Linked DNA regions of Homo sapiens: region 2 is linked to region 1. The links come from fine-mapping of genetic effects on gene expression. A gene starts in region 1. The other region holds a variant in brackets. All regions are shown on one strand. Distances are between the middles of the regions. Region 1 holds the start of GPR137B (G protein-coupled receptor 137B). Region 2 overlaps GPR137B (G protein-coupled receptor 137B).

Region 1 (13,659 bases):
CCTTGGACAGTGTGGGAGAAGCTTTAAATCAGACGTAAAGATTTAATAAAGGAGTATGGGCCAGGCACAGTGGCTCACGCCTGCAATCCCAGCACTTTGGGAAGCCGAGGTAGGCAGATCACCTGAGGTCAGGAGTTCAAAACCAGCCTGGCCAAGATGGTGAAACCCTGTCTCTACTGAAAATACAGAAATTAGCCAGGCGTGGTGGCGCACACCTGTAATCTCAGCTACTAAGGAGGCCGAGGCAGGAGAACTGCTTGAATCTGGGAGGCGGAGGTTGCAGTGAGCCAAGATCACACTACTGCGGCCTGGGTGACAGAGCCAGACTCCAAAATAATAATAATTACCGAGTATGACTAGAAAGCCATAGGATCTGCCTGAGAGGTCATTAGGGGTGGAAAGAGACTTAACATGGCAGAATTTAAAAGCAGTGATTTAGGGGTAAGTTAATCAAATTGAGCTTGCTCATGATCGCATTACCCTCAGATGTGTACCCAAGGGCAGCCGGGGCTGCGTACTGCAGCATCGTGTGCATTGCACGGAGGCTCGGACGGGGCAGTGTGGGCAAGTGTTCTCACCCCTCCGAGCCTCAGTTGGGGGGTAACAGTACCCTCTGGGTCACCAGGGAGGGTGAGATGAGTAAGGCCCAGGTACAGGGACCCTGCAAAAGCACAAAGGACTGACAACAACAGAAAAAAGCTTCCTCCCCATCTCGGACCTCTCCTTCCAGTTCATTCCCAATTCCCAAACTGCCCCCACGACTTCCTTCCCACCATCCTCTCTTCCTCCCCACCCAGCTTCAGCCTCCAGACACCTGCTTCTTCTCAGAGGACTCATGTCTCATTCAAGTCTCCTGACGCTTCAATAACCATTCCCTTCAGTGCCGCAAATCGTGCCTTAACTGTGCTGTATGTATACTTTGATTCTCTGCAACCTGATTTTGCGCTCCAGGAGAACACGAGGTTAGATTTAGAGTTGGGTATGTTTTCCCATTGTTAAGAGGTTTCATGGCCAGGCGCGGTGGCTCACACCTGTAATCACGGCACTTTGGGAGGCCGAGGTGGGCAGATTACTTGAGGTCAGGAGTTTGAGACCAACCTGGCCAACATGGCAAAACTCCATCTCTACTAAAAATACAAAAATTAGCCAGGTGCAGTGGCAGGTGCCTGTAATCCCAGATACTCGGGAGGCTGAGGCAGGAGAATCGCTTGAATCCAGGAGGCAGAGGTTGCAGTGAACCCAGATCACCACAAAGCAAGGCTCTATCTCAAAAAATAAAATAAAAAGAGGTTTCACATACTGTACATAAAAGACAAACCTCACACTCAGACAGCACAGATGTGTGTTGAATCCCAGCTCCACCATGCACTGACAGTGTGACCTTGAGCAAGTCATCTACGACCTCTCAGCCTCAGTTTCCTCCTCTGGAAAATGGGGACAATACCGGTACTTTCTTCAGAGAGTTCTGGTAAAAATAAATATAACCAATTGCTTAGAAGTGTGCTTTCTTGGCCGGGTGCGGTGGCTCACACCTGTAATCCCAGCACTTTGGGAGGCCGAGGTGGACAGATCACAAGGTCAAGAGATCAAGACCATCCTGGTCAACATGGTGAAACACTGTCTCTACTAAAAATACAAAACTTAGCTGGGCATAGTGGCACACACCTGTAGTCCCAGCTACTTAGGAGGCTGAGGTAGGAGAATCATTTGAACCCGGGAGGCGGAGGCTGCAGTGAGCCGAGATCGAAAGTATGCTTTCTTAAACATACTTCTTAATTGTTAGCTGTCAGCCCCTTCTCCAAAAATCTCATTTACTTGGTCTGAGATGGGGGCCCAAGCAACAGTCATTCTTAAAGCTCCCCACTTTAGGTAATTCCAATGGTTTGTGTAAGAGAAAGAGGGGGTGAGCGGGAGAGGAGGAGAAGGGAGGCAGAGCTGGGTTGGCGACAAAAGGCTTTATAACTCCCCAGAAGTATCACAGTTTTGTCACTAAGCCAGAAATGGCTTTGTTCTGCCAGGCTCTGAGATGCCAGCACTCAGAGATGGAGACATGCCACCTTCTCCAGCCAGCCACCCTGTGCCCTCAGGCGAAAAGCCTTTGCTGTGGTGCCCGCAGACCTGGGAGATATAAAGAGTACAGGGCCGTGACTTTGGGCCCCTGGGCCGGAGTGGCTCTGTCTGCCTGGTCACTGTTTCCCTTGCTCAGCATTTACTCACCAACCAGCAGATGGTGCAGAAAATGTGCAGCCCGGCCCCTAATCCGGCTCTAAGTTCAGAATTTGCATGTGATTACCAGAGAGCTGTGGCAGTTCCCTGCATTTTCCTCTTCCCCCACTGCCCCCCAAAAAGGGGACAAATATAAAGAGCTCAACGTGCAATACCACCATTGTCACAGTTCTTAGGGTAACATCACCTCACCTGTCTTTTGCATCTTGCTAGAACCACCTCATTTCAATTACAAAACCCAAGTGTCTGTGCAATGCAGCCGACTGCCTGAACTGGTTTGCAGGTTTAAAGGTTGTACTTGGACAGGCAATACGCATTACTCTCCGACCGGAAAATATGCTGATGCGCTGGACTTACAAGAAGTCTGAGTGTAGACCCATTTTTAAAAGATTATACTATCTACAAAATATCACATATGCTATTTTTTAGCCAAAAGTACTTCTTCCATATTTTCAGTCAGTGGCTTCCACTGTACCAGAGCAATCCTTTTCCTACTTTGTTTTTTTTGTTTGTTTGTTCGTTTGTTTTTTTGAGACAGGATCTAGCTCTGTCACCCAGGCTGGAGTGCAGTGGTTCAATCTCTGCTCACTGCAACCTCCGCCTCCCGGGCTCCGCCTCCCACCTCAGCCTCCTGAGTAGCTGGAACTACAGGCGGGCACTACCACACCCAGCTAATTTTTGTACATTTTGTAGAGAGGAAGTTTCGCCATGTTGCCCAGGCCGGTCTCAAACTCAGGGACACAAGCGATCCTCCCGCCTCCGCCTCCACAATGCTGGGATGACAGGCATGCGCCACCGCATACGGCCTCTTTCTTTTTTTAAATAAGTGACTTTTTCTCAAAAAAAAAAAAAAAGACACTTAAAAGGAATGAGATGCCTGCTTGCACAGGGTTTCTGCCCATCCGACAGTTCTGAAATTACCCTCACCAGGTGACACCGTTGACGCCTTCCCCTTCGGCAGAGTCCTAGTGAAAATGGACATCTTAGTGCTTGGAAAGCTAATGGGAATCAGAGATGATGATGACGATGATGACGGCGGCACCGCGTTATTAAACCTTTGTGCAACGCTATACAAAGTATTTGCAAAGTGCTCAACAATTACTGCACTTTCATTAAGTCAACCATCAGCAGTAAAGCAGCAGCCAAGTTAATTCACATACTCTCCCATTAGCTTATTTAATAATATGCCCCATAAAGTGATTTTTGTGTGGCTGTAAAAGAGCCCCAGTCAGCTTTTATGGCCTTTTCTTGGGGCCTCTCAGATGAGCTCAGACAGTAACTCTGATGAGCGGCAGCAGCTCGGAGCTGGGTGTTACCCCAGCCTGCTGTTTAGCAATCCGGTGGAATGAGTTAGTAAGCCGCAGTTCTGTAGAGCTCCTAAGCCGGAGGTTCAAAACATCTCATCAAAACCAACATGGTCTCACCCTGCCAACGCTCAAAACAGCAGTGTCAGGCCCAAATCTGGAGGCCAACGTGCAGAAGACCTTTCCAGGCCGGGAGTTAGGTGCCTGGGGAGGCAGGGCAAATTCTAGAGTTCAGGCCTCCCTTGGGGGCACACCTTCCATCCGTACTAACTGGCGTGTGCAGGCGCTGCTGCTTCGCGCTGCGCACGGAGAAGCGCCCCGAATCCACCGCACGATGCGGAGCCAGGGGCAGCGAGTGAGCGGCGGCCTCCAGCCCTCCCCTGCCTTCTCCTTGCCCCTTTTGGGAATGGCAGGGGGTTTCCTATGACAAATGCCCGCAAACAGGACAGGGTTCGGACGACCCCAGAGCCGGCGCCTTCTCCCTACACTCTCAGCCCTAGGGCCGGACCCGCCCCCGCGGCTGCCATCGCCCCTGCCTCGGGCGCCCCGCGGGGACCACCCCGCCAGGTGAGCGCCTCCAGGAGCCTCTCTGAAACTCACCTGCGTGAAGTACAAGTTCATCAGCGTGAGGGTGAAAAACTGCAGGCACACAGGGAAGCAGTAGAGCAGCCAGAAGACGAAGGGGCTGAGCGAATTGGCCGCCACGAAGTCTTTGAAGTAGAAGGAGAAGAGGACGGTCCGCAGGGAGGCCCAGAAGAGGCAGAGAAAGAGGAAGACGCTCTGGTAGCTGAGCCGCTTGTGGCGGTAACGCAGCACCAGCCAGAGCTGCACGTAGATGAACACGAAGAGCAGCGCGTAGAACACGGTGTAGACGACGGTGAGGCCAAGCTTCACGTAGGGGGGCACGGCCGGGGTCAGCGTGGGCGGCAGCGAGTCGTTGCGGGCTGGGTCCCACGGCGGGGTCTCCATCGGGCCGGGGGCGCTGCCGCGCGGCCGGGGACGCTCGGGCCTCATCGGGGCTCACGGCCGCCGCCGCCCCCGCGGGGGTCTCCGCGCATCGCGCTCAGCCTGCAGCCCCGAGACTGGAGGAAAGAAAACAAGCCGCACTTCCTCCCCCGGCACCACATGATTCACTGGGACGGCCTTTGTCTGCGATTGGCAGCGCCGCGCCCGCCGCCCCCGCGCGCCGACCGGCCCCGCGCGCCCCCGCCCCGGCCCGCGCGCCCCCGCCCCGGCCCGCGCGCCCCGGCCCGCCCTCCCCCGGGCACCGCGCGCCTTCGCCCCGCGAACCCCGGCCCGCCCTATCCTCGCCACCGCGCGCTCCCGCAGTGCGCGCCCCCAGAGCCGCACGCCTCCTCCCGGCCCCCTCCCCATCCCCGGGGCCGCGCGCTCCCAGACTGCGGGCCCCCAGAGCCCCGCGTCTCTTCCCCCCTTCCCGCCCCCTCCCCATCCCAGGGGCCGCGCGCTACCCGTCCCCGGCCCCTTCCCCATCCCCGGGGCCGCGCGCTCCCGCACTGCGCGCCCCCAGAACCGCGCGCCTCCTCCCCGGTCCCGGCACCGCGCCGCGCGCCCCCAAAACTTCCCAGCCGCGCCCCGCGCCTCGGGGGATCGCACTCGTGGCCTCGCGCATTCTGCTGCTGATTGCTTGTTTTGCAGAAGTTAATTCCTTTATTTAAAAACAAATTTAAAAAAAAAACTTTACAAGTCCTTTCCGTCCCCCCCTTTAAAAATAAAACTTTACGACTCTGTGGCTATGAACTGGCCGGCGTCTGGAATGATGTTTATTTCTAAATGCAGACATGCCAAAGACAGGGTTCGTATTTTTGAGGTCAAATTTGTATACTGAGTGAGGAAATAGACGGTGCCTGCGGCTGCTGCCTCCTCTGGGATGCAAGCTGGGCTGTTTTCTCCCGGAGAGCCTCACGCGCTCCCAGCGCCTCACCTCCCAGCGATGTAGCCGGTGCCGGGAGGCGCGCGGGCCGCGGGTCAGTGGATGGAGCCCACTGGGCTTCAGAGAGAAGTGGGGCAGCTGACGGCACACGGCCCCCCTTGTCCGATCCAACCCATGCCGAAGGAGGGTCTGTCCCCGCCACCCGAGAGCCCTTCTCTTTTGCTTTTGCTGAGCAGCTCGCTCCTCGAGGCTGTACAGCGACTTAGTCTTTGCCCCGGGGCACCACGCCACCCTTGTCTTGGGAGAGCTGGGGAGTGCTCTGGGAAAAGAGGGAAAGCCGGGCGCCCTCTGGAAACATTGCTGGGCAAGCGGTTCTGGTAAACAGAAGAAACTCGGATTTCCGAGGCTCCAGTAATTGTGATTTCTTTTCTTACTCCACTTCGTGCCTAATTGTGTGTTCTTTTTCCAAAAGACGGCCTGGCATATCCAGAATCCACCCTAGCTTTTGCTCAGAATTACTTAGTGGTTACAGCGCTCCCAGCGTATTCCAGGTGGTTCACTGGGGCCAAGTGTGCCTTTGGCGTGGAGCTCCTTTTCCAGTTTTTCTATCCTTTCCCTCTCTCCCTATCGCTATTTCAAGAGGAAATACGGAATTGGGCTCCACGCCTCTGATCTCGTTCCCCTCAATCCCCGTTCTGAACAGCGCAAGTGGAATGATGGAATGATCGCTCTAAAGAACACCTGGCCACTTTACTCCCGTGCTTAAATGCCCTTCCCTTGCTCCTCATAGTTCTGGGGTTAGAGTCTAAACTCCTACCCTAGCTTACCTCCCTGCCTTATCTCTTCCAAGGTGTTAAGCAGTGTTAACACCTCCTGACTCCCCTAGACTAAGAAAATTCTGCCCTTTCCTCCAACAGCTGGTCCTTCCTAGCTATCCATGAGGGTGTAACTTCCTGCAGAGAGCCTCTCCAGAACTCTCCACCCACCAAACTCTCAGGATTAGGCTAGGTGTTTCACCTGTGTGCTTCCCTAATATCCTTGCCTGATTGTTAGTTTCCCCCGCAACACACTTATTTATGTGTCCTTATGATAGAAACTAGGCTTGTTTACCAGTCTCTCCCCTGGCACATTGGAAAAGCATCCGTATACATTTTATTACACTGAAGGAATATTGTTTGTCAACAGAGGTCCAGACTCTGATATTTCTCCCTCCAGTGTGCATGGATTCTACCTCATGATCCAGGAGGGCTACTGGCTCTCCAGACATTGAGTCCACATCCCAGGCCAGCGTTAGGAGGAACAGGGGAAGACTAAAGAGCACTTGTTTTCTCCTGTTTCTGGAGCCTTCCCAGAAAGACCACATAATGCATCCACTTTTAGCTCATTGCTAGGACTTAATTACCCTAGCAAGCTGGCTACAAGAGATTGGGAAACGTAGTTTTAGTCCACGTGGCATTGTACACAGCTGAAAGCCATGGTTCTGTAATTATGGATGAAGGGGCGAATGGATTTAGGAAAAACTAGCATCTTTATCATGACTTCAAAGCAGACAAAAAGAATGCCAGATGGCTACAACAGTTCACCTCTTTGACTACCTAGTGTCAAATGTTTCTTATCATCTTTACAATTCTGAAAATACAATAAAGATGCTCCCACTTAATAACCCTTGTACAATTGAAAAGCATTCCAAGCCAGGTGCTCACACCTGTAATCCCAGCACTTTGGGAGGCCAAGGCAGGTGGATCAACTGAAGTCAGGAGTTCGAGACCAGCCTGGCCAACCAAGTGAAACCCTGTTTCTACTAAAAATACAAAAATTAGCCGGGTGTGGTGGCACATGCCTGTAATCCCAGCTACTAGGGAGGCTGAGGCACAAGAATCGCTGGAACCCAGGAGGCGGAGGTTGCAGTGAGCTGAGATTACGCCACTGAGCTCCAGCCTGGGCCACAGAGTGAGACTCCATCAGGAAGGAAGGAAGGGAAGAAAGGGAAGGAAGGGAAGGAAGGAGGGAGGGAGGGGAAAAAAGGAAGGAAGGAGAAAGGAAGGAAGGAAGGAAGGAAGGAAGGAAGGAAGGAAGGAAGGAAGGAAGAAAACAGAAAAACACATTCCCTCTTTCCCCCAAAAGGATCATCATTTTCTGTGTCCAGCTCCAAGCCCAGGAGCTCTGGGTGATAGCCATTCCTCCAATTCTGTCACCATCTCATCTCAACATTCTGTATCTTACGGACTAAATTATTAAGTTATCCATCACTAGTTTGTCCTGTATAAAATAGTAGAAGAAAAAAATGTAAAGGAAAGGAGAATTCATTATTAGGTTGGCGCCAAAGTAATTGTGGCTTTTTGCAATTAAAAGTAATGACAAAAACCACAATTACTTTTGCATCAATTTATAAAATACATACATATGACACAGCAAGAAAAAAATATAAGTTAGAGTTGTTGTTTTTCTGACTGGTCATAAAGCTGTAATTGCTCTCCTTAATGGACGTTACAAAATTTCCCTTTCCCTTCATCAGGGATCTCAGCTAGTCAGGGGTAGCCCTGATTTCTGAGGAATCTAAGCTTGTTAATGTTTGCCACTGGACATGCCAGCAGCAAGAGGCACTACCATGATTGAATTCTGTCTATTCACCTTTTATTGCTCATCATATAACAGCAACTCTACTTCCTCTTAATAGTTACTGTCATCACAGCCAACACCATCATACTATTTTTTACAATTCACCCACTGGCATGAGGAGTCTGAAATAGCCAGGGTCTCAACTTTTATTTCACTTAAACCACACTTGAATCTCCTGGGGTAGAAGAGTTCCTCCTTGGTTACTAAGACCTTCAAACTAGCCAAGCCTAGAGGCGAAGGAACGGGAAACAAAAAAATTTGCAAGTAAGTCACTGAGTGTTAGTGAAAGGTGCCATTCTCTTGGTTCCTGTAGCCATGTATCCTGACTGCAGGACAAATAGCACGATATGTCAGCTTTGGGTTCAGAAGAAATTCTATATATTATAGGACACCAATGCTACCTTTCTGTGCATTGTTGTCCTGCAGGCACAATAACTAAGCCTACAATTGGTCATTCCACCACTGGATAAGGCCAGCTGCTACTTGAGGGACAGAAATTAGCCTACCACGTTTCTTCTTTTAGTATAAAGTGAGGTCCTTGGTCAGAGCAATATTGTATAGGATACCATGATGATGAGCAATGCATTCAGAAAGTCCCGGGACAATAACGCAGGCACAGGAGGCAAAGAAAGTCAGTCCAAGTTCAGAAACATTGTCTATTACAGCAAGGACAAATTGCTGATATCCTACGTGATTAAAGAGGTCTATATAATCTGCTTTCAGGTGGCTGTCTAGGACTTCCCCTGAGTTTGAAACCTCTTGAAAGGCTCAGAGTTGGCTGGCGATACTCATGAAAAGCCAGGTCAGCCTTGGTGGGGAAGTCCAGATTGTTACAAAATGGATCAGTCAGTCCCTGCCTGCATGGTCACTGTGTCCATGAGCCCATTGAATAAGCAGTGGGCTAACTGGGGACAGAAGATGTCTTCCATACCCAGGGCAGGTAGACATGTCCACCTGAATGCTGAGAGCCTCCAGTAGAGCTGGGTGTTTTGGGGAACCTGACTTGGTGGCTTGATGGATCAAAATAACATGCAGCTCAAGACGGGCAGCTCAGACTCCATGGTAATCTGCCTTCTTGATGAGACATTCAGTCTCTTCCACAGCCCAGGAGCAAGCCATCTCTTTCTCTCAAAAGAAAAATAGTTATTTGACAAATAAGGCATGTATGTGTTCCCAAACCCTTATAACTGACACTGTGATTCTCCTAACAGGGCTTGTCACAGGTAATGTACACCTCTCCAATCTGCCATTGACACTTTGAGCACCGTTAGATCCACGGAGTCATGGATGACAAAACAGATGGCATTGCAGCCTGAACCAAATGGAGCATCTCCTCTGCCTTGAGCCCCTTCTCAAAATTAGCTCCCTTTTGAGACACCCCATAAGTGGGTCAGAGAAGCCCACTAATGTGACAAATATTGCTTCCATAAATAGGACCTCAAAGCATTACGCTTCTGCTTCCTGTAGGAGGCGGTGTCAGCTGTAATATCTCATCCTTCATTTTGGAGGAGCTATCTCAACCTAGACTCCCTGAAATGCTTCCGTGAGGTCACAGGCCCCTGTAGACTCATGAGATTTACATGTTTCTTACATGCCTAGAATAACTGCCATCTCTGCCTTGTGGGTCCTCATAGCATGATGTCATTAATATAGTATCACTGTGATGTCCAAAAAACATTAAAATGATTAAGAGTTCTGAAGACCAAATTGTGGCATGAAGCCAGAGTTGACCTAACCCTGAAGGAGATAGGAAAGTATCCTTACTAGATGAGACAAAGTGGCTTTTGGAGTTCTTCACTTATTGGGAATGAGAAAAAAACCATTTTCCTCCAGAGGCTGTGTGGGCTTGCTGTATTGAAGTCACCACCATATGAAGCTTATGATTACCTGTTTTATTTTCCAAGACCCCTCCATCTGTGTACCAACTGAACAGTTAGATGAAAAAGTGATGGGAGTTTACCACTTCTTTTTTTTTTTTTTTTGAGATGGAGTCTCGCTCTGTTGCCCAGGCTGGCATGCAATGGCGCGATCTCGGCTCACTGCAACCTCTGCCTCCCGGGTTCAAGCAATTCTCTTACCTCAGCCTCCCGAGTAGCTGGGATTACAGGCGCCCACCACCACGCCTGGCTAATTTTTTTGTATTTTTAGTAGAGACGGGGTTTCACCATGTTGGCCAGGCTGGTCTTGAACTCCTGACCTCAGCTGGTCTGCCTGCCTCGGCCTCCCAAAGTGCTGGGACTACAGGCGTGAGCCCCTCCGTCCGGCCTTTTTTTTTTTTTTTTTTTTTTTTGAGGCAGAGTCTTGCTCTGTCGCCCAGGCTGGAGTGCAGTGGCGTGATCTCGGCTCACTGCAAGCTCCGCCTTCTGGGTTCACGCCATTCTCCTGCCTCAGCTTCCTGAGTAGCTGGAACTACAGGCGCCCGCCACCATGCCGAGCTAATTTTTTTGTATTTTTTTTTTAGTAGAGACGGGGTTTCATGGTGTTGGCCAGGATGGTCTCAATCTCCTGACTTCGTGATCTGCCCGCCTTGGCCTCCCAAAGTGCTGGGATTACAGGCGTGAGCCACCGTGCCCAGCCTTTTTTTTTTTTTTTTTTTTTAGATGAAGTCTCGCTCTGTTGCCCAGGCTGGAGTGCAGTGGCGTAATCTTGGCTCACTGCAACTTCCGCCTCCTGGGTTCAAGCGATTCTTCTGCCTCAGCCTCCCGAGTAGCTGGGATTAGGAATTTACCACTTCTTTGGCATCCAAGTTCAGGTCTGAGAGTTGGATGCGGGTACAACATTCTCTGATGGGATGGTTTAATTCAGATCTAGGGAGTTTTTATTTTGCTTTTGTCAACTATATTAAGCAGGTCCACAGAGGACCGCCCATCTCATTTGTCCTAAGAGCTCATATTCAATTAGTTTCTGCCAAAGATCTTTGATGTGCAGGCAATTCTGATTGTCAGACTGGCCATTCTCAGACTGGTCATGATCATCTTGCCTTCTATTGGGATAACCTCTCCCTTACTGGTGGTTGTGCTGCCATTGAACTCTGGCACCCAGGATCCTGGCAAACATGAGGGAGTCCATTCATCTCCAGCCGCTCTCAATAGCATCCCTGATGTACAGAGTATAGCTACGACAGTACTTTTGAGATATACTTCTCTCACCAGTGTCTCTCTCGGTGCCTTGACAAAGGGAGTGTCTTCTGGTCCCTCTCCAGGACCAGTTAGGGGATTGGTGAGTGGGATTTGCACAATAAATCCACAGCAACATTCCTATTTCCTGGGATTCCTGCTTCTACATTATGCTTGATAATTTCAGACCTCTCAGCTTCTCTTGAATGATGTGGGCTGCCATCAATTCCAGGTTTCATTCAACCAATGAACCAGACAAACAGACCCCTCCCTCTGCTCCAGGAAGCATATTGAACTAGAATCTCTTGGTAAACAAATGTTCTTTGCCTCCTACTCTGGTTTAGCACCCTTAAAATCCATTCCCACATGTATTCTGAAGACTTTTTTTCCAGAATAAAGAGCAAAGTCTTGTAGTTATTTTGGTGTGTAATTCTCCATCCAGGGTTGGCTTTATAAAATGAGGGATATGTTGGTATCTAGTTCTGTCTTTGAAGAAAATGAGAAGTGGGAGACACAAGGCAACTTGACTTCCTCAGGCAAGAACCATAGTTCTTCCAGCAAGGCAGGAACAGCCTCCTCACACGGAGAGAAAGGGCTGCTTTCTGTGATAAGGGGAGCTTTGTGCACTGAGTCCTTAGTCCCATCTGTCCCCATTCTCCATCCCCTGATTCCAACTCTTTCCAATCAGTCCCCGAACTATCACATAAGAGACCAGAGAAGGCTGTGCATTCAACAGATGTTGAAAATCAGAAACCTGGCTCAGTGCGGTGGCTCATGTCTGTAATTCCAGCATTTTGGGAGGCTGAGGCGGGAAGATCACCTGAGGTCAGGAGTTCGAGACAGCCTGGCCAACATGGTGAAACCCCGTCCCTACTGAAAACACAAAAATTATCTGGGTGTGGCTGTGTGTGCCTGTGTGTGCCTGTAATCCCCACTACTTGGGAGGCTGAGGCAGGAGAATCACTTGAGCCCGGGAGGCGAAGTTTGCAGTGAGCCGAGATCGCGCCACTGCACTCCAGCCTGGGCAACAGAGTGAGACTCTGTCAGAAAAGAAAAGAAAAGAGAGAGAAAGAAATAAAGAAAACCAACCAGAAATGCACAGGCTCTCCCTTTTGGCCATGGTCGCAAAAGATAAAATAGTCTTTTAGCATCTTCATTGAAAGTCATCAAAAGTCCTAGGTTTTCAGACTGTGTGCCTTGAACTAGAATTTCAGCCCTTGCTATTTGCTTCTCAAGCTAGAATCAACCACTTTTCCCCACAGCTCTTAAATTCTTTGTGTCCCTCATACTGCTGTCTAGCAGCATCACTCTGTTTCTGAAAACTTTAATGTCAATGGAATCTTCATTGTCCTGGGTTACCTTTACCGCAAGTGACCACAAATGACAATTTATGCCATGAACCGTCTTAACACTATCTGAATTTTCATTTTCCTCCAGCTCAACCAGACCAGATAACCAAGCTCAAATTCTCACCATTCTCTGAGAGTATGTGGCTACCAATACTCCCGGTGTCTATTTCTATATTTCCCAGAGTTCTTGGTTGCAAGCAACAGAAGTAAGATTTGGTTAATTTAAGCAGAAAAAGAATTCATTAAAAGGCACATTATGTGGTTCACAAAATCTCCAAGAGTGCTGGAGGAGCTTGGAGATTAAGAAGAAGGAATGATACCCAAAGTGATGCTGCAGGACTGGTTCTAGAATAATATCACTGCCCCTACCACTGGCTCTGATACTAGTAGTTTGCCCCACAGGAAATACTAGTGCTGGACACTGGAAATTGCCTGTATCAGTTAGGCAAGAAGAAAGTTGCAAGTAACAGAAAATCTGTCTAATAATAGATTAATAGTAAATGTTTGTCTTTCTTACATATCTGGATGTCAGTTGTTGCAAGCATTGATTCAACCATTTAAAAAATCTGTGAGGGATCCTGGCCCTATCTGTCTTTCTTCTCTATCATCCTTAGCATATTGGCTTTAATCTTCAGAGTTGTCCTCTCGTGGTTGCAAGATGGCTGCTCTAGCTCCAGCCATCACATTTGCATTCAAGGCAGAAATTGGAAGAAGACAGAAAGAGTGACTCCTATGTCAGGAGGACAAGGTTTTACCAAAAAATCCCAAGTCAGGCCTCCACCTACATCTTTTGGGCCAGAAGTGTGCCATAAGCCATCTAGAGCTATAAGGGAAGCACTCATTTGGCACATCCAGCCTCTATAGTAGGGACAGGCAAAGGGAAGAGGTTACAAAGGGTTTTGGATAAATGAATCCGTCTCTAGAGTAGATTATGCAGTCCATGCTTCCTTAAGTCACACTCTTCCAATTCAAAGTCTGGAGCAGGGGCGTTTGATTAGCAGAGTCTAGACCATGTGCTCTCATCTTAGCAAGGGTGGCTGGGAGCATGACTCCCTGGCATCTGCCGCTTCTATGGTGGAAGCTTCCACTTCATTCTCTTCAAGTAGGGAATTTCCCAGGTGGAGAAAGGGAGTGCCCGTGCTGGAAGTCCAGAT
Region 2 (17,317 bases), 68 kb before region 1:
AAATTGTATTTAGTTGGCTTGGCTCACCCCTCTTAAAAATACTTAGCCATCTCTTGGTGGGATGTGGTGGGGGTATTAAGGTCTCAGAGTTATTTATTTTCTCACCTAATTTCAAACCTTTATAAACTTGGGGTTTTGTTGTTGATGGTGGTAGTATTTTTTGTTAAGTTGTTTAAAAGGCTGACTTGATTGGAGCCTCCTCTACTTTTTCTTGAGGGTTGCAAGTATTGTATGGTGGGGGAGGGGGGCCTTAAGGCAAACTGTCTAAAAAGTGACTATCCAATTAATTTAACTAGTAAATTAGTAAGAATTATTCTTAGTATTCACTCAGAGTTTAAGATGTGAAAAATCTGCACTTTGTTTATCACTCTAAATGTAAAGAACTTTTTGATAGTGTTATTTCACCACTCCCTCAGTTAAAGGCTATTATTTAAACTGTTTACTGGAGAAAATCCTCGCTCATGTCCATTTATTGTTTTTTTCTGTACTGTGATTTGTTTCAAGCTTAGGAAAACTAGTATATTAGAGTATGTTCTAGGAAATTAAAAGATCTGGTTAGAGTAAAAAGTTCTTTTTAAGGTTCTTAACTAATTTTTTCACAACTAAGAAAATAAATGAAGTATTCTTAGGCTGAAATTCATCTTATTTTATCATAAATTAGATTGTAGGGGCAGCCTACATTTTTGTGTATGTGTTTTTATTTCTTAAATGATTGTGTGAGCCTGGTGACATTTTATGGTTCTTGTGATCTAAACTGTTTTTCCAATTCACATCTTTTGTCGTGAAGTGATATTATACTAGAGTACTGTTTGCATTGTAAAAATGCTTTGCTGGTGCTCTGGCATTTTGTCTTTATCTCATCACCTAATTTAAAAACCCAGCACTTGATAATATAACTGACAGAAATGATTGTACCCACTGATGAAGTAATGAAAATGAAGAAAAGGAAAATATTCCTTCCTTCAATGGCGTAAGTTTATTTTTTACTTAAGTGGCATCTATGTAAGTTAGACAAACTATATATTAAAATTGGTAAACTTTGAATGTTTCTCCTGTTTTGATTCTTAGATTATGAGGAGGATCAGACAGAATAAGACTCCACACTTTTGAAATTTGATAAGTCAAAACGTTTTATTTTGACATTTTTAACATTGTGAATTATTCGATATTTGTAATCTCTGTATGTATATGAAACTCTGCCATGTTTTTCAACTTTGCCTATGTGCCACTGTATATAAGAAAGGACAGCTATTTTGATCTTCATCAGCATTGCCTTCAGCTGAAAATTTGGGAACAGTTCACAGTAAACCTCTCAGTAGTTTGCAAACTGAGGTACCTGCAGAAACCATAGCTACTCACCAAAATACACAGATTAGGTGCATGGTATCGTGGAAATTATTTGGTAAAAAAACACACACACAAATCTATGTGTACTGTATTTTAAGGAATATCTACAGGTGCAGCTTTGATTTTGAACAGAATTCCAAATAATTTACTGTTGTACCCACCAGAATCTAGAAAATGTGAATTAAAGTACATGTTTCTGCAATCTTTTCTGTCTTGTTTTTCCCCGCTATTTTAAGTGTTTCTTTTTATGGCATGAGAATTTGATTGTAACCTGTGGAGAAGGGAGAAAATGTATTTATAAGTAGTCTGAGGTTGTTTCTTATCATAATGGCAAGCATTGGCTGGCATTGTATTAAGGGCTTTTACATGCATAGTTTGGCTTTAAAAGAATACACCGTTAATCTTCACAATAGCACTAGTAGGTAGGTACAATTACTTCTCTGTTTTATAAGTAAGAAGACTGAGGATAAAAAAGGCTAAGTAACCTGTCCATAGTCACAAATTCTAGGTTGTGGAGCAAGAATTTGAGACGAGAAAGACTGATTCTAGAACCTTTGTGACATTTTGTAAGTTGGCCTATTTCCATTCAGCTACAAAGTGGGAACAATTAAAAGCATTGTTTGATTTGTATTGAATCATAAAGCTTATAAAATATGCTTATCTTATTTAATTTTTTGAATAGGTAATACATTCACATGGTTAAAAGAAACAAACAATATAAAAAGTTATTCAGTGAATGTGTTCCTGTGTCCTTGGCCCAGCTTCCTCCACTGCACACTCATCTCCCACCATGAATAGCCTGTGCTCTTGGTTTCTTAGGTTTCCATTCACACTGTTGTAGACAGGTACAAACATATACAAATGGAAAGTCTTATTTTTTCTCTCATTTTTACTCAAAAATTGACATCATATACATACGACTTCATTTTTTTCACCTAGTATTTCTTGGCAGTCTTCACATATGACTAGATAGTTTTCTCATTTTTTGAAGTAGATACTTGGTATTCTGTTATGTGAATGTGCCAGTGTTGAATTAACCCGTCCTCTATTAATGGGCAGCTGGGTTGTTTCCAGACCTTGTACATATGTCATTTCACATTTATATAAATATTGTACCTGTAGAATAAATTCCCAAAGATAAGAATTTTGGGGGCAAAGACTGTGTGCATTTATAATTTTGAAAGATATTGGCATATTGTCCTTCATAGGGGTAGTCATCAATTCACATACCATCTAAAATTTATGATAGTACTTGCTAACCTGCAACATTACCAATGTAGATGTTATTAAAATGTTGGATTCTGGCCATTCTGGTAGATGAAAATTTATATCAATGTGTACATTCTTTTATTTTCCTTAAAAAAGAGACAGGGTCCCACGTTATCACCCAGGCTGGAGTGCAGTGGTATGATCATAGTTCACCGTAGCCTCAAACTCGTGGGCTCAAGTGATCCTCCAGCCTTAACCTCCCGAATAGCCTGGCTTATAGGTGCACGCCACACACCTGACTGCTCAGTATGTAAATTTTTACTATGCCTAAGGTTGACCACCTTTTAATATGTTTAGGAGCCATTTGTATTTCCTTTTGTTTCCCATATTGTTTTGTTCCTATCCATTTTTCTACTATATCGTTGATATGTTGTTTATTTGTTAGGGATATGAACCCTTTGACAGTAATGAGTTGCAAATATTTTCTTTCCAATTTGTCATCTGTCTTTTGCTTATGATGGCTTTGTCATGAGTTTTAAAAAATTTTTATGTAGTCTGAATTACCAGTTTTTTTAGTGGTTTCTGGATTTTGAGTCATAATTAGAATGTTTTTCTCAATCCAGAGCAATAGAGTAATTCACCTAAATTCTACATCTAAATTTTGAACCTCTGAAGCATATTCTGGCATAAGATATAAGTTATGGATCTAACCTAATTTTTTCCGCAGGTGATTAACCCAGTTGTTCCAATATTATTTATTGAACTGTTTGTTTTTTCCTGACGAGTTTGAGAGGCTACATTGATCTTATCTTAGAATCCGTCATATGTATTTAGCTGTGTATCTGCTTCTGTTTCTCTGTATCTGTTTCTATTTCATTGCTCTATTTAGTCATGCACTAGTACCACATTGTTTTAATTACCCAGGCTTTAGTTTTAATCTAGTGCATTGGTCCTCCCTCATTCCTCCCCTGCCCACCTTTTTTTTTTTTAACAGTTTTTCTAACTGTTCTTATTTTTCCATATGAGCTTTAAAAAATTCTTAACATATAGAGCATACTAAAACTGTCCAACTCAAGTTCTCTCCCAAGGGTTGCACTTTTAACCACTTATTTTGTCACTGTTCTTTTGATACTTTACCTGATAAAGATACACTTTTTACTACTTTTAAATTATTACAGTGTTCTATTTGGCAGTGCCCAAACAGGTGATGGCAGATAGAGGCAGGATGCAATGCCTGTGTGGAAAGAATGTCATCTCAGTGCTTCTATTTTAAGATAGTCTCTAGGAATGATTTAAGGACTGTTCTCATGTAAAATCCCTATTTCTTTTTTTATTCCATTACGAATTATTTGCCCAAAAGTTGGATATCTGTCAAAGATTCATAAGACAAGAGGGAGAGACCCTTAAATAAGTACTAAACTTGTAAAATCAATATGTGGATAAAAGTGCAAGTACAAGAAGTTACTTTGGAAAAAAAAAAAAAAGCAGACATCTACCAAAAAACAGGATTTGACTATTCATTCACTGTTATAGGAGCTGGGACTATAGCAGTGAACAAAACAGACAAACATTCCTGCCATCATATAACTTAAGACATTATAACCTACCTAGATTGTAGTGAGAATGCACCAAAAGAAAAAATACATCAACCAAAGGGAAATGGCCAACTAGACACCCATCTAGTGCAGAAGGTGTCCTCAACATGAATGAATCTTAGTGTTGTCTTGACAATGCCATCAGATTGTCATAGATTGATGCTATTAATCAATTAAAGTCATTCCCCTAACACTGGTCAGAGCGGAGTTAACATTCCAAGCAACATTCTGGTATCATTTAACTTCTGCTATGGCTTTCCTTCATAGAATATACCTCCAAATGGGTGTGTGTTCTGTTCCCTTTAATGAGCTTAAACCTGCAAACCTGGAGCCCAGACTCTTGGCTAGTGAATTCACCAAGGAGATAGCACTCAAAGGATACTAAGTTACACATATTTAATGGCCCTGGTAAAGCACTATTTGTTTAGGATAAATGCATGCTAATCCATTAATGCAGTTAATCCGTTCAAGGAGCACTGTAACTTGGGCCTGCCAAGAGACTGGAGGGACTGTTGTAGGTTAGCGCGATTCATGGGGAAAAGGTCATAGTAACAGGAATCAATAGAAAAAGGGGGCAATTTTGGGAATCTTATAGGCATCTGATCTCCACTTAAGTTCAGGGGCAGAAAATCTGTTCTGGACATAGTCTAATATTTTGAGTGGTAGGACATCCAAGGTCCAAAAGGGCAGACCAGGTTTGGAGCTAGAGAATTAGTATTAGCAAGATGTTAATCAGTTTGAGAAAACAGAAGACAGGGTCCAGCCATAGCTCAAGGACTAGAGGTAGAGAATCCAGACTTGGAGGAACCAGGTAGATGTCATTAGGAGTTGCTGAGTCACTGGATTTAGATCTTACAACCCTGAACCCATAATTAATGACCTGGGCAGCCAATCTCAGAACTCCACACGGAAGGCATGTAGTATCAGTGCCCTGGCCCATAGGAACCGGGCAACAGGTACAGGGACTCTGACACAGATCTAGGTTATGGGCACAGGGACATCCTCAGAAGACTTCAATGTATTTTGACCCTTGGTGCAAGAGTTCTTATGTATCCTTGCTAAGGGCCTAGAGTAACGTTAATAAGTGGGTGTTCCTGAGTATAGACTAGGATCCACAGAAACGTGACGAGTGCCTAGTCCAGCGTCTCTCATATAATAGGTACTGAATAGACATTGAATCCCACTCTCTTATCCTCACTGTTCCTTGTTAAATGTTTCCTCACTTTAATCCGTTTATTAATTGAATCTTTTTGATGAGACAAATTCCCCAATTTTAGCCTGATCCTTTTCAGCAGCTCCTCCATCTGGACCCATGTCTTAAGTAGCATGATAGTATACAGTTAGAAATGTCCTTTAATACAATTCTCATATAAGATGAAAACTGGGAATGCATATTAGATGTGTCTCTGATCAGATCTATGCTAGTCTCTTCCTCATGCAACAATCTAAAGTGAAAGAATGGTATTTTTTAGATAAAGGTTGTCTAGTTGGAAATCTCGATAAAAGTTTCAAATATTTAGACCCATTTAGTTCTAATATAAGTTTACCTTTACTGTTAAAAGATAAAAGCAAGTAATATCCACTATGTAAATATGAGAACCTTTTTCTCACAGTGCTTCTCAAGTTCTAGGGTTTACTAATATGTATTCCTTTCTTCTTAATAAGGTTTAAGTGTTCAACTAGGTGTTGGCCCAGCACTAAGGTCAACAAAGAGCAGCTGACTTGGATTTTGGTGAAAGAGGAAATTTGAGGAGGCATTAGTGAGTGTGCCTTATCTAAGTAGCTAAATTTAACCAGCAAAGCTTTTAATTTGCCTGATACATTCAAGAGAGAATTGGTATAAATATGATTGATGTGTATATTGTAATAGTCAAACCTTCTTACAGTCACAACTCTGTAACATACCCTAGATGTTTTAATCAGCAGCTCAACTGAGTTCATTGTAAAAAGGGTAAAGAACCAATGAAAAATATCTATACAATATTCTTAGACAATTAGCTGCAGAGGTAGACACCTATTCCAATAGTCAGAGAAACTATTTCCAACAGTTACCCAGAAACGTTCACATGAAACTTTTCAGTGTTCCATCAGACTTAGCTAAATGATGGCACAAAATTTTCAGTGATTCCCTCTTCCCCATATACTTCAACTTTCTAATCATCAGGGCTTTAATTTCATCGTGTTGCTTTAAAACAAGAGGACATTTGGGTATTTTGCAACCAGTAATCACCATTCCTTTTCCTCTTAGCATTTAATATTCCACATAAGTAGTTTTTTTGTTTTGTTTTGTTTTGTTTTGAGACCGAGTCTTGCTCTGTTGCCCAGGCTGGAGTGCAGTGGCGCAATGTCCGCTCACTGCAAGCTCCGCCTCCTGGGTTCACACCATTCTTCTGCCTCAGCCTTCCAAGTAGCTGGGACTACAGGCACCCGCCACCACGCCCGGCTAATTTTTTGTATTTTTAGTATAGACGGGCTTTCACCGTGTTAGCCAGGATGGTCTAGATCTCCTGACCTTGTGATCCTCCCGCCTCGGCCTCCCAAAGTGCTGGGATACAGGCGTGAGCCACCGCGCCCAGCCAGAAGTAGTTTTGTTAGTGTACCTAGTAGAACAAGTAAATTAGAAAGCCAAAGGGAATTTTAATTTTCCTTACTAAGAAGGAAGGAGAGTTTGAGTAATCAATCATAGTTTTTTTGTATTCCGTGTTTACAACACTTCTAGAAATTTTAGCATTACATTTTTAAAAGGGGAATGAGAAAAATAGGCACTTAGAACATTTTTATACTATCTAACAAAAATAATAGTTCAAATAAATCCCAGTAGCTTCATCATAAAAGTAGGCTGACTTCTCTCACTTAATGCTGGGTATTCCAATTTTTCTGCCAGTAACAACAGAACTGTGTTTACATATTACAGGATGAGTATGATATTAGTGATAGTCTTATCACTATTTTTAAAAATATATCTTCCCTTAGCTGACCTAATACTGAAGGACTTCAGGACTTTCTGAAGATGTAACTTAAAGGAGTTTAAAACATGCTGAGTCTGCCTTTAAATTAACTATTAGTAATACAGTGTGACCACAATAATCTGTTAAAGCTATTTAGAATAATAGCTTATAATGTGTTAAGGCAACTTGAATAACAGTGTAGGGTTCACTTCAGTATAGACTTTTCCCTGATAACTACTTTAAATGCTATGTTACCCCAATTTTTTCATGTACTAGAAGACAAGAATGTTGTTATGTAGGATTATGCAGAGTGAAGGTGTTCTATACACATGAAAAGCCCAATGATGATCAATTTGAAACTTGAGATCCCAATTTTAAATACTACCAAAACAATAGTAGACTTCATCTGTGAAATCAATGCCCAGAGATCAGTTATTCCTGAAGATCAAAATGAGAGGAGTCATTTGAAATGGGTTGCATCATGTAGTAGGACTTGTTAATATAAGTTCCTTTTCATTGAACCTTCCCTCTGTCCCCAGATGAGCATTCCTAGGCAGAGAAGAAACGTGCCTTGTTTCTGGTAACAGTACTTCCTCTAGAACCTTATCTCTGTTTTATAGAAAAGCAGAGCATTTAGCCTCCCAATAGGCAGTTTTATGGCTCCAGGATATATATAGTGGAGTTTTTAGAATGGCACTTCCGGTCTGGGAGGCAGTACTTCATAACCTGTTTTTTACTTAAATGAAAGATGACTTACAAGGAATTGTCTGGAACATGGCTGACAGGCATCATGCTACAGCATATTGCAGTGCTATTGCCATTTTTAAATGTGCAGCTTCCAATAGGCTCTTTACAGAGCTATTTAGAAGGGCATTATTTTAAATATAGTTGGAGATTACGGAAAAAACTATTAGGATTCCACATAGTCTTAGCTCAACGGCTTGGGGTATTTGTTATTAATGCCCTTTATGGACCCTCTTATTTTCTCCTTGAATGTAATGAACATTCAGTGAGTTCGGAAAGGGGTGTATTCTTGATGTGGCCCTGAGGTAATGCATATTAGATTTCATTAGGCTGAAAAAAAACTATGCAGAATCTGTGAACATAGCAGAGGAGGTTTAATAGGATAAGTCAGCTACATTTTTAATGTTATCAACTTATCATTAATGTGTATACATTAGCGCCCTACTGAAAGGAAGTACCAGTCTTTGGGCAAAACTTAAGAGATTCCTTGAGGAACCTACGGCCTGAACCTTAAAAAAAAAATCTCTAAAGACCTTACAGTCTGCTGCTTTACCATTTCATTTTAATTATCAACACTGGAGTTGCAATTGGCTAAGTTGTCAACTGTATTTTAGGAGTCTACCAATGTGGCACTCAGAATCGGAGTGACCATCAGTGACCTAAAGAGGTAAGATTTGTGGAATACTTTAGTCCAAAAGCTTTAAAAAACTATTAGACCATATATTCTATATTTTTAAAGTGAATTATGCATAAAAGTCTGTGCAAACTACAACATGATTGCAGTAACATTCTCAAGAAAAAAAAACCCTAGTATACTTTAGCATTATTATTTAAGTTATACAAAATACATCTTTATAAAAGTACAGATTTTCTTTAAAAAGTTTAAATTATACCCACTGAAATAGCAAGGCTCCCTCTTTAGTACTAAAATAAGGGTTTATCAGTCTACATTATTGCTTATTCCTATGGGGCCATTGGAAACCTGTAACAAATAAAAATCAAGTTCTATTTCTTAAGGAAAAGTGCCCTAAAAATTCAGCTGTCACTATGCTTTTCTGAAGCTTTTCATCTGAGGAATCGTCCATAAAACTGTTAACTGATGCTACCCAAGGCTTGGTTTGTCAGGATCCAAAGTTGAGTCTTGCAAAGTTCCTGCTTGTGCCAGGAAGCTGTTAGTTTGTTGTCCCCAATCATAGTAATCTGGAGCAAAACTTAAAAAGAAAAAAATATTTCAGTGACTTGAAACATTATATAGTATGTATGACATAGTCTAGTTTAGGTAGACAGAGCTGAGATTTTTGTGTAAACTATAGATAACTCTAAAGTTCTTTTAAATGGCTCTTAAAGTCCATTTTCCCACAAAACCATGCTACACACAGGGCTGAAATGCCCACCGACAACTCTACTGAACTCTTTAGAGCACAGAGTATACAGCATGACTAGAGAACCCAGCCAGTCACTATGCATAGGAAATGTTTTCAGCAACAAACTGCATCTGAATCCTAACATGGAGTACAGCTCACAACCTGTGGTGGTGTCTTTGGACAAGTAACTTCTATGCCTCAATTTCCTCATCTTAGAATGGGAGTAATATTAGTAACTACGTCGTGGGCCTATTGTGGGGACTGAGTTAACATCTGTAAAGTGCTTAGAACAGTGTCTAATATATAGTTAATTCTCAATACACGTAAGTCGTTTTCATTATAATTATGTTCCTCTATGTAGTAGAAAGGGGGTCTTGTCTTCACCATATCGGTAGTGAGGACTCCCTCAGCTCTAAGTCATTTCTGGCAGGTGAGAGGGTGGGACAGCTCTAGCAGAATATGGGTTTAAAGGGGAAAGCAACTAATAGGAGATGCAGTGGGGTAACTGGAAAAGAACAGTTTTAAGGAAGAGGTGGAGCTCA[G/A]AATCTGAGTGACCCAAAGGACAGCTTTTGACTTCAAGAAGTCCTTCTTGTTTGTTGGCTTGCTTCCAGCTTACGTTCTTTACATCTGCTGGCTCAGCGCATTGGGCAGCTTTCTTCTTTTTTCTCAGCGACAATCTTTTATCCTATCTGACCAGGATTTCTCTGCTCCCCGATCACTGAGAAAGCATGTATTCTCCCAGCTTTTCTTCAGTACTTCTGTCCCTAAAACAAGGACTCTTTTCAGAGCTCTCTTAAAAAGTTTTCTAAAGACTTTCACTGTTACTAACAAGGAGTAAAAAGGCAAGCATATATTTTTTATCATTTCATCCCAGAGGGAAAAAAGTTGTAAAGTTGTTAATGCTAAGTCTTTAATCTTACAAAAGATTACATAAGATAACCTTTCACTTTCTAAGAAGCTCCCCTTTCCCAGGAACAGGATGGGGGTCCTGAGAGGACAAGCAGAGAGAAGACAGGCTTGGCAGGCACTATGTCAGCCCTTTTGGCTCCTCTCACCCCTGCTGGCCTCACCGTCTCAGAGCCACAGGCTGAAAGGGGAAACATGATAGTCATCGGGTAGTGGAGTATGGCTGAGCACAGCAGGCTGAGGAAAAGGGAAGGGAATCCCAATAGCAACTACCCTTCCTGTTTGCAGACCATGCCCATGCTGAGGTAAGCAAAACTTGGAATCCTGGGGTGGATCTCTGCTATGGTTGCAATTTCAGGTGCTTCCCTCTTTTTATTTGCCTTCCCAATTCACTGAAGATTAGGCGATGGCAGCGGACTGGTAGTTCATGTATTGTCTTACACCCTCTATGTATGCTGCTTTGAACTCTCAGTATTTAACTGCCCTTTCCACATTTTCTGGGCCAGATCCGCATGTAGATTCAAGGAAGGAGACTCCTGCTATTAAAACTCACGTGAAAGTATAACATAAGCGTAGGTGAGACTAAGAGACAGGGTACTTATATACAAACTGTTTACATAGTATGGTGATTCAGAAAACAAATTTGAACAAAACTGCCTGAGTTAGAATTGTAGCCTGATCACTTGCTAGCTGTGTGACCTTGGACAAGTTACCTACCCTCTAGATACCTCAGTTTCATCTGTATTATGAGGCTAATAATAGTACTGACCTCTCAGGACTGTTAAGACTAAATGAGTTGATATTTGTGAATCTCTTAGAACAGTGTCTGATACAGAGTAGATGCTATAGAAGTATTTATTAAATAAGTATTCATGAAAATTGAGACCAAATAAATACCCTTCATGTAAATGAAATTTTAAATTAAGAACTGACATCATTCAAATTTGAAAACTTGGTCCTTTATAATGTATAATTTATTCTAATAAATAAATACTACTGCATTTACTCTCTAGCTTTAGAACATGTGATTAAAGATATCATGTTCCATTGAGTGATTCCATAGACAAGTGCTGTATTTCCCTCTTGGAGATTCAGAGCACACATTAGCATATTACAGGCTCGCTCGGCATTTTCTAAAAAGTTTTTTTTCTGGCCGGGTGCAGTGGCTCACGCCTGTAATCCCAGCACTTTGGGAGGCCAAGGTGGGCAGATCACTTGAGGCCAGGAGTTCAATCCAGCCTGGCCAACGTGGCAAAACCCCGTCTCTACTAAAAATAAAAAAATTTGCTGGGTGCGGTGGCGCACACCGGTAATCCCAGCTACTCAGGAGCCTGAGGCACAAGAATTACTTGAACCTGGGAGCGGGAGGTTGCAGTGAGCCAAGATTGCACCACTCTGCACTCCAGCCGGGCAACAGAGTGAGACCCTATCTCCAAGAAATAAAAAAGTTGATTATCATTTCCTTTTGCACAGCATAACTATTAAGAAAATAGTGTTTCATGGAATATTGTTTAGGAAACACTACTGTATACAATAATGCTATGGGGCTTTAAAAAAACCGGATGTCCTTTCTCATTCCTGAATGTTTCACATAAGTAAAATGATCTACTGAGAATCCAGTCTTATACCACCTAAGGCTGCACAGTTTTAACGTAGGAATTTTCTTTTAGCTTGAATCTATTTAACTGGTGTAACCCTTCCCTCCTGATGAGGCTTGTCTAACATGAAGTAGGGTCTTACCCTCCCTGAAGTCCCTGAGGGGCAATGTTCCAGGCAAGGTCATCATCACTGTCATATCTTCGAGGGTTGTCAAAGAAATAAGATCTGGGACTGAATCCATGGCTGGGGACCATTCCAGGGTTGGTCTAGAAAGACAGGTAATCATTCAGCATACTTACAGACATCATGCCTTGCACCAGACAAAAATAAGATCTCTTTCTTGTAGGAGACTAAAGATGTTCTATTCATTTGAATGTAGGCTATATCTGTTCAGCTGGAATATTCATTTCAGTTACTCTTATGTTTGAGAGGGATTCGCCTTGCCTTTTATCAGTATGGGCAAAGTCTTCTATCAGAGTCTTGCTTGCAACAGTGAGTCATCATTGTTTTAATCCCTTATTGAAAAGCTAGATGATGAGTAACTATATGCCAATAAACTGTAAAATCTAGAAGAAATGGGCAAATTCCAAGACACATACAGCCTACTAAGACTAAACCGGAAAGACTAAAACCCGAACAGACCAATAACAAGTCTTTTATTCTACCTAACTAGAATTTCTCTGCTCCCTAATCCACTGAGAAAGCAATGTTTTCTCCCAGCTTTTCTTCAGTTCTTCTGTCCCTAAAACAAGGGTTCTTTTCAGAGCTCTCTTAAGGTTTTCTAAAGACTTTCACTGTTAGTAACAAGGAGAAAAAAGGCAAGAGATCAAAGCCATAATAAAAAGTCTCCCAGTAAAGAAAAGCCTGGGACCCAATGGCTTCACTGCAGAATTCTACCAAACATTTAAAGAAGAACTAATGTCAGTCATACTCAAACTAATCCAAAAAAAATAGAGGAAGAGGGAGTACTTCTACACTCATGGAGGAGGCCAGTATTACCCTGATACTAAAACCAAAGACACATAAAACTGTAGGCCAATATCTCTGATAAATATTGATGCAAAAATCTTCAACAAAATACTAGTAAACCAAATTCAACAATACATTGGAAAGATTATTCATCATGACTAAGTGGGATTTATCCATGTGATACAAGGATGGCTCAACATAGCACAAATAAATGTGACACATCATGTTAACAGAATGAAAGATAAAAACCATATGATCATCTCAATTGATGCTAAAAAAGCACTTGATAAAATTCAGTGTTCCTTCATGATAAAAACCCTCAAACCGGGGAAAGAAGAAACATACCTCAACATAATACAAGCCATATATGACAGACCCATAGCTAGTATCATACTGAATAGGGGAAAACTACAAGCCTTTCCTCTAAGATGTGGAACACACAGTCACCACTGTTATTAAACATAGTACTGGAAGTCCTAGCTAGAGCAATCAGACAAGAGAAAGGGCATCCAAATTGGAATAGAAAAAGTCAAATTAATGACTCCACAAAAAGTATGAGAACTAATAAATTCAGTAAAGTTGCACAAAAAATCAGTAGCATTTCTATATACCAAGAGTGAACAATCTGAAAAAGAAACAAAAAGTAATCCCACTTATAATAGCCACAAATACCTAGAAATTAAACAAAGAAGTGAAAGAGCTCTATAATGAAAACTATAAAACATTTAAAGAAACTGAAGAGGACACCAAAAAATGGAAAAATATTTTCTGTTCATGGATTGGAGGAATCAATATTGTTAAAATGGCCATACTACCCAAAGCAATCTACAGATTCAATGCAATCCCCATCAAAATACCAATGATACTCTTCACAGAAATAGAAAAAACAATCCTAAAATTTATACAGAACCACAAAAGACCCAGAATAGCCAAAGCTATTTTAAGCAGAACAAAACTGGGAGAATCAACATGACCTGACTTCAAATTACACTACAGAGTTATAGTAACTAAAACAGCATGGTACTGGTATAGGAACAGACACATAGGGCCAGGCATGGTGGCTCACACCTGTAATCCCAGCACTTTGGGAGGCTGAGGCAGGCAGATCATGAGGTCAGGAGATCAAGACCATCCTGGCTAACACAGTGAAACCCCATCTCTACTAAAAATACAAAAAATTAGCCGGGCGAAATGGGGGGTGCCCATAGTCCCAGCTACTCGGGAGGCTGAGACAGGAGAATGGCGTGAACCTGGGAGGCGGAGCTTGCAGTGAGCCGAGATCACGCCATTGCACTCCAGCCTGGGCGACAGAGCAAGACTCTGTCTCAAAACAAAAAAGAAAGAAAGAAAAGAAACAGACACATAGACCAATAGAACAGAATAGAGACCCCAGAAACAAATCCACACACCTACAGTGAACTCATTTTCAACAAACTGCCAAGAACATACACTGGGGAAAAGACTTCAATAAATGGTGCTGGGAAAACTAGATATCCATATGCAGAAGAATGAAACTAGACCACTATCTCTCACCAGATACAAAAATCAAAAAAAATGGATTAAAGACTTAAACCTAAGACCTCAAACTGTGAAACTACTACAAGAAAACATTGGGGAATATCGCCAAGACATGGGTCTGGGCAAAAATTTCTTGAGAGTGTCCCTATGGGCACTGCCATCATGGCAGAGGTTTGGGGCTAAAGAGCAGAGAATTTGTTTCCTGAAGAAGTGAAAGTTCAACAGGCAGGGAATGGATTTCAGATTTGCATCTGGATCTAGATTCTGTTCATCTATTCTATTTACATATAAATACTTTGAGGGGAAGATGGTGGATAGGAGATAGGGCTTACATGCAGCTCCCACTTGGACAGACAGAACAGTGTGTGGAGAGTCACACCATGGACTTTTGCTCCAGGAACCACCACAGGAGCATACCAGGAAAACTGAAGGAATTCACAGACACTTGGAAAGAAGCGGCAGGCCACTGCAAATTCTGAGAGACAGGTGAAAAACTCTGGTGCTCTCTTGAAAGTGCCACCTCCTGGCTGGAGGCCAACCACCTCAGGACATTACAGCAACTCATGACAGATCCCCTGCTCCAAGGAAGGAGAAAACAACAGCTAATTCTACTGCCTCCAACATCCTGGCTAAACAGTGGTCCTGAGTCTGTCCATGGTGGCAACTTCATTGCTAGCATAAAGCACTTAAGAAAGCCAGCATACTAAACATACTTACAACCAAGGTCTTTCACAGAGTCTACTTCAATCCCCTGCCACCTCCACAGGAGCAGGTGCTGGTATCTATAGCTGGGAGATCTGAAGATGAATTGCATCACAGGACTCTTTGCAGACATTCCCCAGCACCAGTCCAAAGCCCGGTAGCCCTGCTGGGTGACTAGACCAAGAAGAGCAATAACAATCACTGCAGTCTGGCTCACAGGAAGCCCCATCACTAGGAGAAGGGGAAGCAACCCACATCAAGGAACCACCCAGACAAAAGAATCTGACCAGCAGCTTTGAGTTCCAGATTTTTCCAGTGAAATAGTCTACCCACATGAGAAGGAATCAGAAAAGCAGTTCTGGTAATATGACAAAACAAGGTTCTATAACAAGGCTCATGCCAGCTCTCCAGCAATGGATCCAAACCAAGAAGAAATACCTGAATTGCCAGATAAATAATTAAGAAGGTTGATTATTAAGCTACTCAAAGAGATACCAGAGAAAGGTGAAAACCAACTTAAGTACTCTTTTTTAAAATACAGATATGGATGAAAATGTCTCCAGAGAAACAGATATAATAAAAAACTGTCACAACTTCTGGAAATGAAAGACGCACTTGGAGGATAAAAAATTCACTGTAAAGTTTCAACAATAGAATCAAGTAGAAAAGAAAGGACTTCAGAACTTGAAGACAAGGCAATTACCCAATCCACAAAGACAAAAAAGAATTTACAAAATGAACAGAGCCTCCAATAAATTTGTGATTATGTCAAATGGCCAAACATAATAATTGGTGTTCCTGAAGATGAAGAGAAATCTAAAGTTTGGAAAACATATTTGAGGGAATAATCAAGGAAAACTTCCCTGGCCTCACTAGAGATCTAGACATCCAAATACAAGAAGCTCAAAGAACACCTGGGAAAATAATTGCAAAAAGATGATCAGGCACAGTCAGGTTATCTAAAGTCAAGACAAAGGAAAGAATTTTAAAAGCTGTTTAACAGCAGATTTCTCAGGAGAAACCCTATAAGCCAGAAGGGATTGGGGTCCTATCTTTAGCCTCTTCAAACAAAATAATTGTCAGCCAAGAATTCTGTATCCAGCAAAACAAAGCTTCATAAATGAAGGAAAAGATACAAAGTCTTCAGACAACCAAATGCTAAGAATTTGCCACTACCAAGCCAGCACTACAAGAAATGCTAAAAGGAGTTCTAATTCTTGAAACAAAACCTCAAAATACACCAGAATAGAACCTCCTTAAAGCATAAATCTCACCAGGCCTATAAAACAATGAAAAAAAAAAGTATTCAGGCAACAACTGGCATGATGAATAAAACAGTCTCACATCTCAATACTAATGTTGGGTGTAAATGGCCTAAATGCTCCATTTAAAAGATACAGAATGGCAGACTAGGTAAAAATCCACAAATCAAGTATCTGCTGTCTTCAAGAGACTCAACTAATGCATAAGTACTCACATAAACTTAAGGTAAAGGGGTGGAAAAAGATATTCCATGCAAATGAAAACAAAAAGTAAGCAGGAGTAGCTATTCTTTTATCAGACAAAATAGACTTTAAAGCATCAACAGTTAAGACAAAGAGAGACATTATTTATTAATAAAAGGATCAGTCCAACAGGAAAATATCACAATCCTAAATATATATGCACCTAATATGGGAGCCCCCAAATTTATAAAACAATTATTATTAGACATTAAGAAATGAGATAGCAACACCATAGTGGGGTACTTCAGTACTCCACTGACAGCACTAGACAAGCCATCAAGACAGAAAGTTAACAAAGAAACAATGGACTTAAATTATACCCTAGAACAAACGGACTTAACAGATACTTACAGAACATTCTACCCAACAACTGCAGAATATACATTCTTTTCATTGGCACATAGAACATTCTCCAAGATAGACCATATGATAGGCTATGAAATGAGTCTAAATCAATTTAAGAAAATTGAGATTATATCAAGTACTCTCTCAGACCACAGTGGAATATAAAATTGGAGATTAACTCCAAAAGGAACCCTCAAAACTATATAAATGCATGGAAATTAATGTGCTCCTGAATGATCTTTGGGTCAACAATGAAATCAAGATGGAAATTAAATTCTTAGAACTGAATGATAATAATGACACAACTTACCCAAACCTCTGAGGCACAGCAAAAGTGGGGCTGAGAGGAAAGTTGACAGCATTAAATTCCTACATCAAAAAAGTCTGGAAGAGCACAAATAGAAAATCTAAGGTCCTACCTCAAGGAATTAGAGAAACAAGAACAAACCAAACCCAAACCCAGCAGAAGAAAAGAAATAACAAAGATCAGAGCAGAACTAATGAAATTGAAACAAAAAGGCAATACAAAAGATAAATGAAACAAAAAGCTGATTCTTTGAAAAGAT

Evidence for each region.
Region 2: its variant is fine-mapped to the expression of GPR137B in whole blood (TOPMed, PIP above 0.99).

The regions. Positions count from the first base shown.
Region 1 is chr1:236,133,508-236,147,166 of GRCh38, reverse strand. GPR137B (G protein-coupled receptor 137B) reads right to left here and starts at 4,628. Exons shown (of 7, transcript NM_003272.4): 1 at 4,131-4,628. The coding sequence starts at 4,544. RefSeq lists an enhancer at 3,901-4,404 and silencers at 4,370-4,639, 4,710-4,889.
Region 2 is chr1:236,199,787-236,217,103 of GRCh38, reverse strand. It overlaps GPR137B (G protein-coupled receptor 137B), which reads right to left. Exons shown (of 7, transcript NM_003272.4): 6 at 11,854-11,978; 7 at 8,197-9,054. The coding sequence ends at 8,946. ERO1B (endoplasmic reticulum oxidoreductase 1 beta) reads left to right here. Exons shown (of 16, transcript NM_019891.4): 16 at 1-2,003. Among named protein-coding and RNA genes, the nearest start is that of GPR137B, 66 kb to the right of the region's middle. The variant G/A (reference allele first, on the strand shown) is at 9,750.